2 separate regions of the Homo sapiens genome follow, and region 1 is linked to region 2. Evidence: fine-mapped expression QTL. A gene starts in region 2. The other region holds a variant in brackets. All regions are shown on one strand. Distances are from middle to middle.

Region 1 (4,396 bases), 22 kb before region 2:
ATGCCTGGCTAATTAAAAAAAAATTTTTTTTATATAGAAACAAGGTCTCACTATGTTGCCTAGGCAGGTCTTGAACTCCTGACCTCAAGCAATCCTCCCACCTTGGCCTCCCAAAGTGCTAGGATTACAGGAGTGAGCCACTGCGCCTGATATTTCTTAATCTAATGGGCTAGGTGCTGTGCCTGACGCTGGGGGCACAGCGGTGAGTCAAAGTTCCTGCACCCAAGGAACTCATAGTCTTGGGGAGTAGACAGATATATCAACAGGAAATTATAATACAACACAGCAAAGGCTGATCTAAACTGGGCTCCTGATGATCCTGCTACAAACTTGTTCTTAGGTTCTTTCCCATCTCAATAAATGCTAAATCCCTTCTTCCAATTTTCCAATTGCTTAGGGTTTTACCCACCAAAGTCACCCTTCACTCTTCTCCTGACCTACATTTGATCTGTTGCACAAAAACCACTGTCTTGACCTTCAAGGTACATCCAGAATCCCAACATGCCTTACCATCTTCATCACCCCACCCTAGGCCGGCCACCATCATTAATTGTATGGGTCACTGCACTCATCTCTTAAGTAGTCTCTTTGCTTTTGCCCTTGACCCCCTTCCTTCCTGTCTATTTTTTTTAGCACAGAAGCCAGACCGATCTCCTTAAACTGTAAGTTAAGTCATGCCGGCCTTACTCTTCAAAGGCATCCCATCTTAGATTAAGAGGTGGACTTTGCAGTCCCTACACATCCCTGAAGATCAAACCATCCCCTCTTCCCCATCTCTGGCCTCATTGCCTGCTCTCCCCCAACCCCCTGCTCCTAGTGTGTCCTTCTCACAGCCTCCCCAGCACACTTGAGATATTCAGCCTCAGGGTTTTTGTGCCTGCAGTTTCCTCGATCTGGAATCTTCATCTAGATTGAGCAGCAGCTCACTTTCTACTCCCTTTGGGTTTTTCTAGTAATGCCACCTGCTCAGTGGTGGCTTTCCTGGTCACTCTATCTAGAATGGAAATTCCTCTCCACCTCCTCCACTGCTTTATTTTTCTTCTTACCACTTATCACTGCCATAACTTAGATTTTACTTGTTTATCTTGCTTGCTGTCTGTCTCCTCCCACTACTCCCATGACGGCAGGTATGTCTGTTGCCTGGGAATACTGCTGCATCCCCAGCACCAAGAACAGTGCTCAGGCTATTTCAGGTGCTCAGCGCGCCATTGGTGAATGAATGGATGGAGTGCAAAGTGAGAGAGAGATGTCCAAAGTGTCATGTGAGCACAGAGGAGGCATAACTTTACGGAGTGGGGGCTGTCAGGTAAGGTTTCCTGGAAGAGGCTATGTCTGAGCTGGGTCTTAAATATAAAGAGGAGGGAACACAACATATAAAGAGAGATAGAGAACGGAAAGGATTAAATCCTCCAGGGTTTAGCACAGTGCTGGCTAAACTCTGCAGGTTTAGAAATGGGCACTCAATATGTATCTGTTAAAGCAGCGGTCCTCAACCTTTTTAGCACCAGGGACCAGTTTAATGGAAGATGATTTTTCCATGGCCTGGGGTTGGGGGGGATGGTTTCGGGATGAAACTGTTTCACCTCAGATCATCAGGCATTAGATTCCCATAAGGCACATGCAACCTAGATCCCTCGCATGCACGGTTCACAATAGGGTTCGCACTCCTATGAGAATCTAATGCTGCCACTGATCTGACAGGAGGCAGAGCTCAGGCAGTAATGCTCAGTCGCCTGCCCACTGTTCACCTCCGGCTGTGCAGTCCAGTTTCTAACCTGTCTGTGGCCCAGGGACTGGGGACTCCTGGGTTAAAGGAATGAAAGGATGGAGGAGAGAGGAAGCTCTTCCAGGCAGAGAAAACAGCAAAAGCAAAGGCAAGGGGTGAGGAGGGCAGTGGAAACAGTTTGATTGCTGGGGCAGAGAAAGGTAAAGAGAAAGATGAAGCAGAGAGAGGTAAGTAGGAGATGGGGTGTGGTGA[A/G]TCTTGTAGTCCATGCTAAGGTGCGAGGACTTGATGCTCAGGGCAGCCACTGCAGGCTGAGAACCCCAGAATAACCTGGTCAAGATCAGTGTTAATCCCTCTGAAGAGAAGGGATGTAATGTCACTGCTTGGGTTCGTGCTCGTGAGGGTTTAGTTCCTGAACCTACATCTCATCCCCCTGGAGCCACCCCTCTTGTGGCAGTGAAGTTAGTTATTAGCCAAAGAGTACATATGCCCTAAGCACAAGGCACATCCTCCCAAGCACCTTCCCGGGGCTCTAATTTGCAGAATATGAAGCAGGATGGATAGCTCAAGCTATACCGCCTTGAAAAGCAAACCCAGGCAGTACCAGCTTTTGAAGGTAGGAAGACAACCATCTGGAAAAGACAGTTCTAAGACTCACCCTCCAGTGTGCTGAGGTTGGCATTTAGCGCTTTGACTTCACTTGCAATAATGGGACAGAGCTGGCCACAAAGGAATAAAAAGAAAAAAGCAAGTTACCATGTTGTACTGGAAAGCCTTATTGATGGGCCTAGACCCTGCAAACAAAGGCCTTCTGGTTAGCAGTCATTATCCCTTTGGTCATCGAGACATTCTCTTAAATTTGTTGATGTCTATGGGCCTCGCTTTACGTAGATACGGGTGGTATGTCACTGAATGCCAGCTGAACTTTGTAGCAACTAGCACTACATCCAATCAGCCCTGTAAAGAGTGAGTGAGCCCTTGTCGTTTCTTTCTGTGACATGATAGGGCATGCGTCCCAGTCCATGCTGTTATACCCGAGGAACCTGCTGCTGGAGCTGCTGTATCTTTCCTGACTGCTGGGGGTGCCGCCAGCTTGCCATCTCCTCTAGGAGCGGTTGCATGCCCTACCTGGAATGGTTAGAGCTGGAGCTTTTTTTTTTTTTTTTTTTGAGACGAAGTCTCGCTCTGTCACCCAGGCTGGAGTGCAGTGGCGCGATCTCGGCTCACTGCAAGCTCCGCCTCCCTGGTTCATGCCATTCTCCTGCCTCAGCCTCCTGCGTAGCTGGGACTACAGGCGCTCGCCACTATGCCCGGCTAATTTTTTGTATTTTTAGTAGAGACGGGGTTTCACCGTGTTAGCCAGGATGGTCTCGATCTCCTGACCTCGTGATTCACCCGCCTCGGCCTCCCAAAGTGCTGGGATTACAGGCGTGAGCCACCGCGCCCGGCCCCAGAGCTAGAGCTTTTACTTTCCCCCTGGGCTAGTTGGAGAGCACATTATATCAGAGATCTACTTAGAGATCTATTTTGTTGCCACCTTTTTGGAATTTGAAAATTAGTCTTGAGTCACATTAATATTTTTAGGAAGGGGCAGAGGTATCAGCACTGATGTGCCTCTTGTGTGCTCATTGATGTGCTTGGCATAGTGGGTACAGCACAGGCTTGGCTGCCTGGGGCCGAGGGTTGAATCCCTTGGCAAGTTACTTGTATTCTTTGATCTCAGTTTCCACATCTGCAACATTTGCATGGGGATGATAATTGTGTCCACCTCATCACATTGTGAGTAGAAATGGAAGTAATCCATGTAAACTTGCCCAGCTTATAGTAAGCATTGAGTAAGTGTTAGCCGTTGTTAGTTTAACTCCATTTCACCTTCACTACAGCCTTGAGAGGGAGGCATGACGGTCCCCTAATTACAGATGGGAAAACCAAAGCTTAGAGAGGTTAAGTGAGTTGCCAGGTGTTGCATAGCCGGGATTTGAACTCAGTTTACACAGCTAGACAGCTGTGGTCTCAGCATTCTTTTCTATCTTCCAGTGGCACAGAGAGAATCACAGAAACATCTATTATCTTTAAGCCATAAATCAATTTCAGGCAAACTTAATTATTGGCTTCTGTGACATAACTCATTCTTCACTGGCCTCCTGTCAGAGGCAAAAGGACCGTGCCTCGTTTCAAACAGGGGAATGATCAAGTTTGGGGTCCTTGAGGATGACAGTGCACTTTGCCAGGGACTCTAATATGCACACTCATTGGCACTCAGCATCTGTCAGGTAAGGATGGAGAAGGACTATAAGGCTTCTGAGTCCTGGACAGCTGCGCCACCTCCTGGGATGAGCTGCTTGATGCTTCTGAGTGTTGATTTCCTTACGACTTTCATTAAGCACCTATAATGTCTGTCAAGCACCGAGCTGAGCACTAGAGAGATGGACGTGACCAGACCCTGTCTTTGTCCCTTCTTTTCCAGAAGAGTCTTCCTTCTTTTCTATTCCTCCTCATCCCTGTCCTTATCTCCCCCAAAATACAGGTAAACGGTTCAGGGAAGGTGTGGTCATTATTGGAAAGAGAGTGCATAGACAATTCCATCTTTCCCTTCTTCAGACACTGACTTCTGAGACTAGAAGCCTTATAGCTTTGGAAAGGATCTTAATATATTCTATTTTCTTAACTTAT
Region 2 (4,396 bases):
AATGGGAAAGAATGTTAAGACCAAAATGTCTGTACCTATTAGACTGTGTGCAAATTAAGGCAGACATGATATCTCTCCCTGGCACATGGTAAGACCCAAATTAATATGTGCTAACTGATCAACTGACTGACTTAAAAGATTCCAGTCAACTAAGAAAGGTTCTACAAATGGTTAGAAAAAAAGGAAAAACCAAACTATCATATATAATATAGAGCTCTCCATTTCTATAGTGAAAAAAACATAATAAACCAGAGAAGAAATATTACTTGTGAATGGAATAACAACTAAAATAATAAATTTTTATTTCTTTACCCTTTACAAAACTCACAGTTCTTTGAAGTGGATGTTCTTATTATCTTACTCCCATTTTAGACACGTGGACATGGAGGCTTAGAGAATCTGATGACTCGTCCAAGATCCCACAGTAAGTAAGGCACCTGGGAACCCAACCTTGTTCTTCTGGTTCCTAATTCTAGTGTTGATGAATTTATTTTTATTGAATGACTCGATACATGCTAGGGTTTTCATTTTCATCTGGGAATTTTAAATAGGAGTTGCTTGACACCATTTTCCTTTTTGTTGTTGTTGTTTAAAAGTTACTCAATTTTTTTTATTACACTTTAAGTTCTAGGGTACATGTGCACAGAAAACCAAACACCATTTTCAAGGTGGAAAAATTCAATAAGCATCTAGAAACGTTCAAGCATCACAGTGCAAATCCCTTCTTATTTTCTTGGACACAACTGGAGTTTTAAATTCCCTGCCAGCAGTAAAACCTGTTTTCCCTTCTTGGTTAAAAAAAGTTTCTGAAGTGGTACACTTTGATGGAGATCCAGGAATCCAAAATTACAGGCAGGAAAACATATTTTTCCTCTAGAAATTTTATGAGTGAAAGAAATTACTGGGGTATGAAGGGGTGAATTGTACATAACTTTTCATTGAATTGTTCAGTTACGATGATAACTTATGGGCAGGGGAGGAAAGGAACCTTGTCAAGCAAGGTGATGACTACTAAAAGGTTAAGTAATTTGGCTGACAAGTGCAGGCAGGGCTAGTTGCCTGTTAAAAGGATCCAAGATCACTTAAAAACCCCACCAGCAAGTTATCTATTTTGTTGCTTCTGGGGAATTGCTTCTTTCCAAGATTCAAAATCTCAGTAGTCATTATTTTTCCATACAAATACACAGACAGAATAATACTCCTAAATTAAATGGTCCTTGTGTGAGTCATCCTGACAGCTAAGAAAATGCCAGTCCAATTTAGAAAACACCTGAAACTCACAGATGGTCCTACTACTACTGCTGCTTGGCAAGAGCTTTGACTGACTCTGGAAAAACCGATTAAGGGAGTAATGAATGAGTAAAATGTAGCCTTCAAAACAGAGGCGCAGGTTGAAAAATTAAGTTCAACAGGTTTAAAGAAGTCTAAACTAGAAGGGTATTCCGACATATTGGTTAAGACAAAATGACCGTACATAAGAAGTCTAAATCGACAGGTATGGAACGTGGGCAGAATATTTCAAGGGATCCACTCCTCACATCTAGTTTTATAGCAACATCTCTAATGACAAGGACCTTGAGAATTCATAGCATGTCTTTTCCCCAAAACTCTATGCCTAACACCAACAAGTTCAACAGTCCAGGCAAGTGGGTGGCTAGTTTTGCTCTGGCAGGATCTAGGTCACTGATGTGCTTTAAGACCTGCCTTGAAAGCACAGAGATTATAACAACTCCTTAGTCCTAACCATGCTGATTTTGAGAGACAAGATAGAATTTTCTGCCACTGTGCTGGGTTCCCCTCTGAAATGGAGGCAAAAATAAGTCCAGATCACTGAGCAACCCTCTTAACATTGTTCCATGATGCAAAACTAAGTAGGTGGTTTAAACCAACTCTTTTCTCTCTTATGGCTGTTTAGCTGTCACTAAAGCTTTTGCCTAAGAAGCCTCCAGGTGCGCATATGTGACATCACACAAACAAACAAACAAAGATACAGAAAAATCTAGGCAGACAATAATAATAACCCAGGATATATGACAGCTGCCTGTTCAAAGTGTCCTACCAAATCTGGGACATCTCCAGTTTGGAGATCATGGCTGGCAGAGACCTGAAGTTTGTTCATGAGTCTTACCTCAAGCAGAGGAAGTGTCCAAAGCTGGAGAGCACCTTCGATTCTCTCTGCCTTTGAAGCTGATGTGTTCTCCACCTTGCGCCTTAAACTCAGCTGCTAAAAAGCCAAGATAATTAAGTCTGACTCATCTCAGTGGTGAATTTTTTTAATGCCTCTTTCAAAATGTGATACATAATTGCTTCACTACAATTACCCAATGGCATGAATGAGCACTACAGTATCTACCTAGATAAACAGACAGTGCCACCTATGCAATAATTATCTTCCTGCAAAACACACACACACACACACACACACACACACACACACCACTTGTGAAATTGTGATGGCTACTTTACCAAAATGATTGAAAACGGTGTTAAACTGCATTGGAAGAGGAAGAATTTTCCTGTCTGGAATCATAAGCTGGTTCCTTCTGGTCAGGGTGCCTGCGGTGGATGGCTCTACTACTGCCCAGAATACCTTTGGGACTTGTGGTGGATCATCAGATTCAGTCTGAAAGCATGAGGCTTGACAATCGGGCTGACCTAGTTACCTTATCACTCAGGGTAGGACCTCAGTTGGCATCTCTCAGTGTCCGTCCGCTCCTTTTCAGAATGTTATTAATGACTTACTGTTCCAGCATTCCTTAAACCTAAGTTGGGTGGGTGGGTTCATCAACTATTATGCAACTTAACATTTTCAGATTCCAAACTCCAGCCCTACTCTCATCTCCAATAAATTCATTTTAGTTAATGTGTTTTATCTATTTTTATTTTTATTTATTTATTTTTTGAGATGGAGTCTCACTCTGTCACCCAGGCTGGAGTGCAGTGGAGCGATCTTGGCTCACTGCAACCTCCGCCCCCTGGGTTCAAACAATTCTCCTGCCTCAGCCTCCCTAGTAGCTGGGATTACAGGAGTGCGCTACCACGCCCAGCTAATTTTTTGTATTTTTAGTACAGACAGGGTTTCGCTGCATTGGCCAGGCTGGTCTCGAACTCCTGACCTCATGTGATTGATCCACCCGTGTTGGCTTCATAAGTGCTGGGATTACAGATGTGAGCCATCATACCCGGCCATTAATGTATTTTAGATGGCCAGGGATTTGATTGTATGAAGTTTTTTTTTTTGTTTTTTGGTTTTTTTTTTTTTGAGACAGTCTCACTGTCACCCAGGCTGGAGTGCAGTGGCATGATCTTGGCTCACTACAACCTCTGCCTCCAGGGTTTAAGCGATTCTTGTGCCTTAGCCCTCTGAGTAGCTGGAATTACAGGTGTGCACCACCAAACTTGGCTAATTTTTGTATTTTTAGTAGTGATGGGGTTTCACCATGTTGGCCAGGCTGGTCTTGAACTCTTGACCTCAAGTGATCCACCTGCCTTGGCCTCCCAAAGTCCTGGGATTACAGGCATGATCCACCGCACCCAGCCTGATTGCATGAAGTTCTTATGGCTTATCTACACTTTTCTGGGTAAGACCCGGTGACCAACTGTCCTGGTTTCCCAAGAATGCAGGATTTTCAGTACTAAAACCAGAACAGTCCTGGGAAAATCAGGATGATAAGTCAGTCTGAAAGGAACCACAGACGCTTTCACTTGGCATTGTCCATACTTCTCACAGCTTCTCAGGGGAGTTATACCTTGGGTTATACTTACTGATTTGAACTGAGTTTCCTTAAGGTAAAGTGGGGATAGAAATAGTAACTTCCTTGATTGGTTCTGGTGAAGAAAAACATAATAACACATGAGAATGCGCTATTAAAACTGTAAACTGCTGTGAAATTCTACTCATTAGCACGTGGCCGTATCAATAATGATACGGTGCAGAGACGCTCTTCATGGGATCATTTATTGTCGGTCATCATAGATGAATTCATTCATTCAATCAACAGATTTACTGAGCACCTACAATGTGCAAAGTCCTCTTCAGCAAAAAAGATGAAATTTTTGTCCACGAGGAGTTTATGTTCTAGTCGATGGAGACAAAATAAATAAGCAAACAATAAAATAAACAAAAATGTATAAATTGTGACATGTACTGTGACGGAACTAAGGGAATGTTGTTGGTAAGGTGGTCTTGTAATAGGTAGAGCAATGCAACTGGGGGAGGTGGGCTTATTTTATCAGGATACCCACGTGGGCGTCTCTGAGGAGGTGATTATTTGCGCTGAGATGTGACCGTTGGAAGCCAGGCAGGCAAAGTGCTGAAAGGAAAAGGTGGAGGGAACTGCAAAGGTGAGCCAGTTTGTCTGAAATGGAGTTGGGGCAGAAGTTATGGTATTCGAGA

Alleles and levels. Positions count from the first base shown, and alleles are read on the strand shown. Sizes are in standard deviations (SD) of each study's normalised expression.
As copies of G replace A in region 1, the expression in unexposed skin of the gene that starts at base 2,201 in region 2 goes down (small effect, 0.14 SD a copy in GTEx).

What was found. PIP is the estimated chance that this variant, and not a neighbour inherited with it, causes the effect.
Region 1: its variant is the best candidate, but not a certain one, in a credible set for the expression of BPIFC in unexposed skin (GTEx, PIP 0.57).

What each region holds. Positions count from the first base shown.
Region 1 is chr22:32,440,290-32,444,685 of GRCh38, forward strand. BPIFC (BPI fold containing family C) reads right to left here. Exons shown (of 17, transcript NM_174932.3): 8 at 2,382-2,442. Among named protein-coding and RNA genes, the nearest start is that of BPIFC, 22 kb to the right of the region's middle. The variant A/G (reference allele first, on the strand shown) is at 1,979.
Region 2 is chr22:32,462,246-32,466,641 of GRCh38, forward strand. BPIFC (BPI fold containing family C) reads right to left here and starts at 2,201. Exons shown (of 17, transcript NM_174932.3): 1 at 2,129-2,201.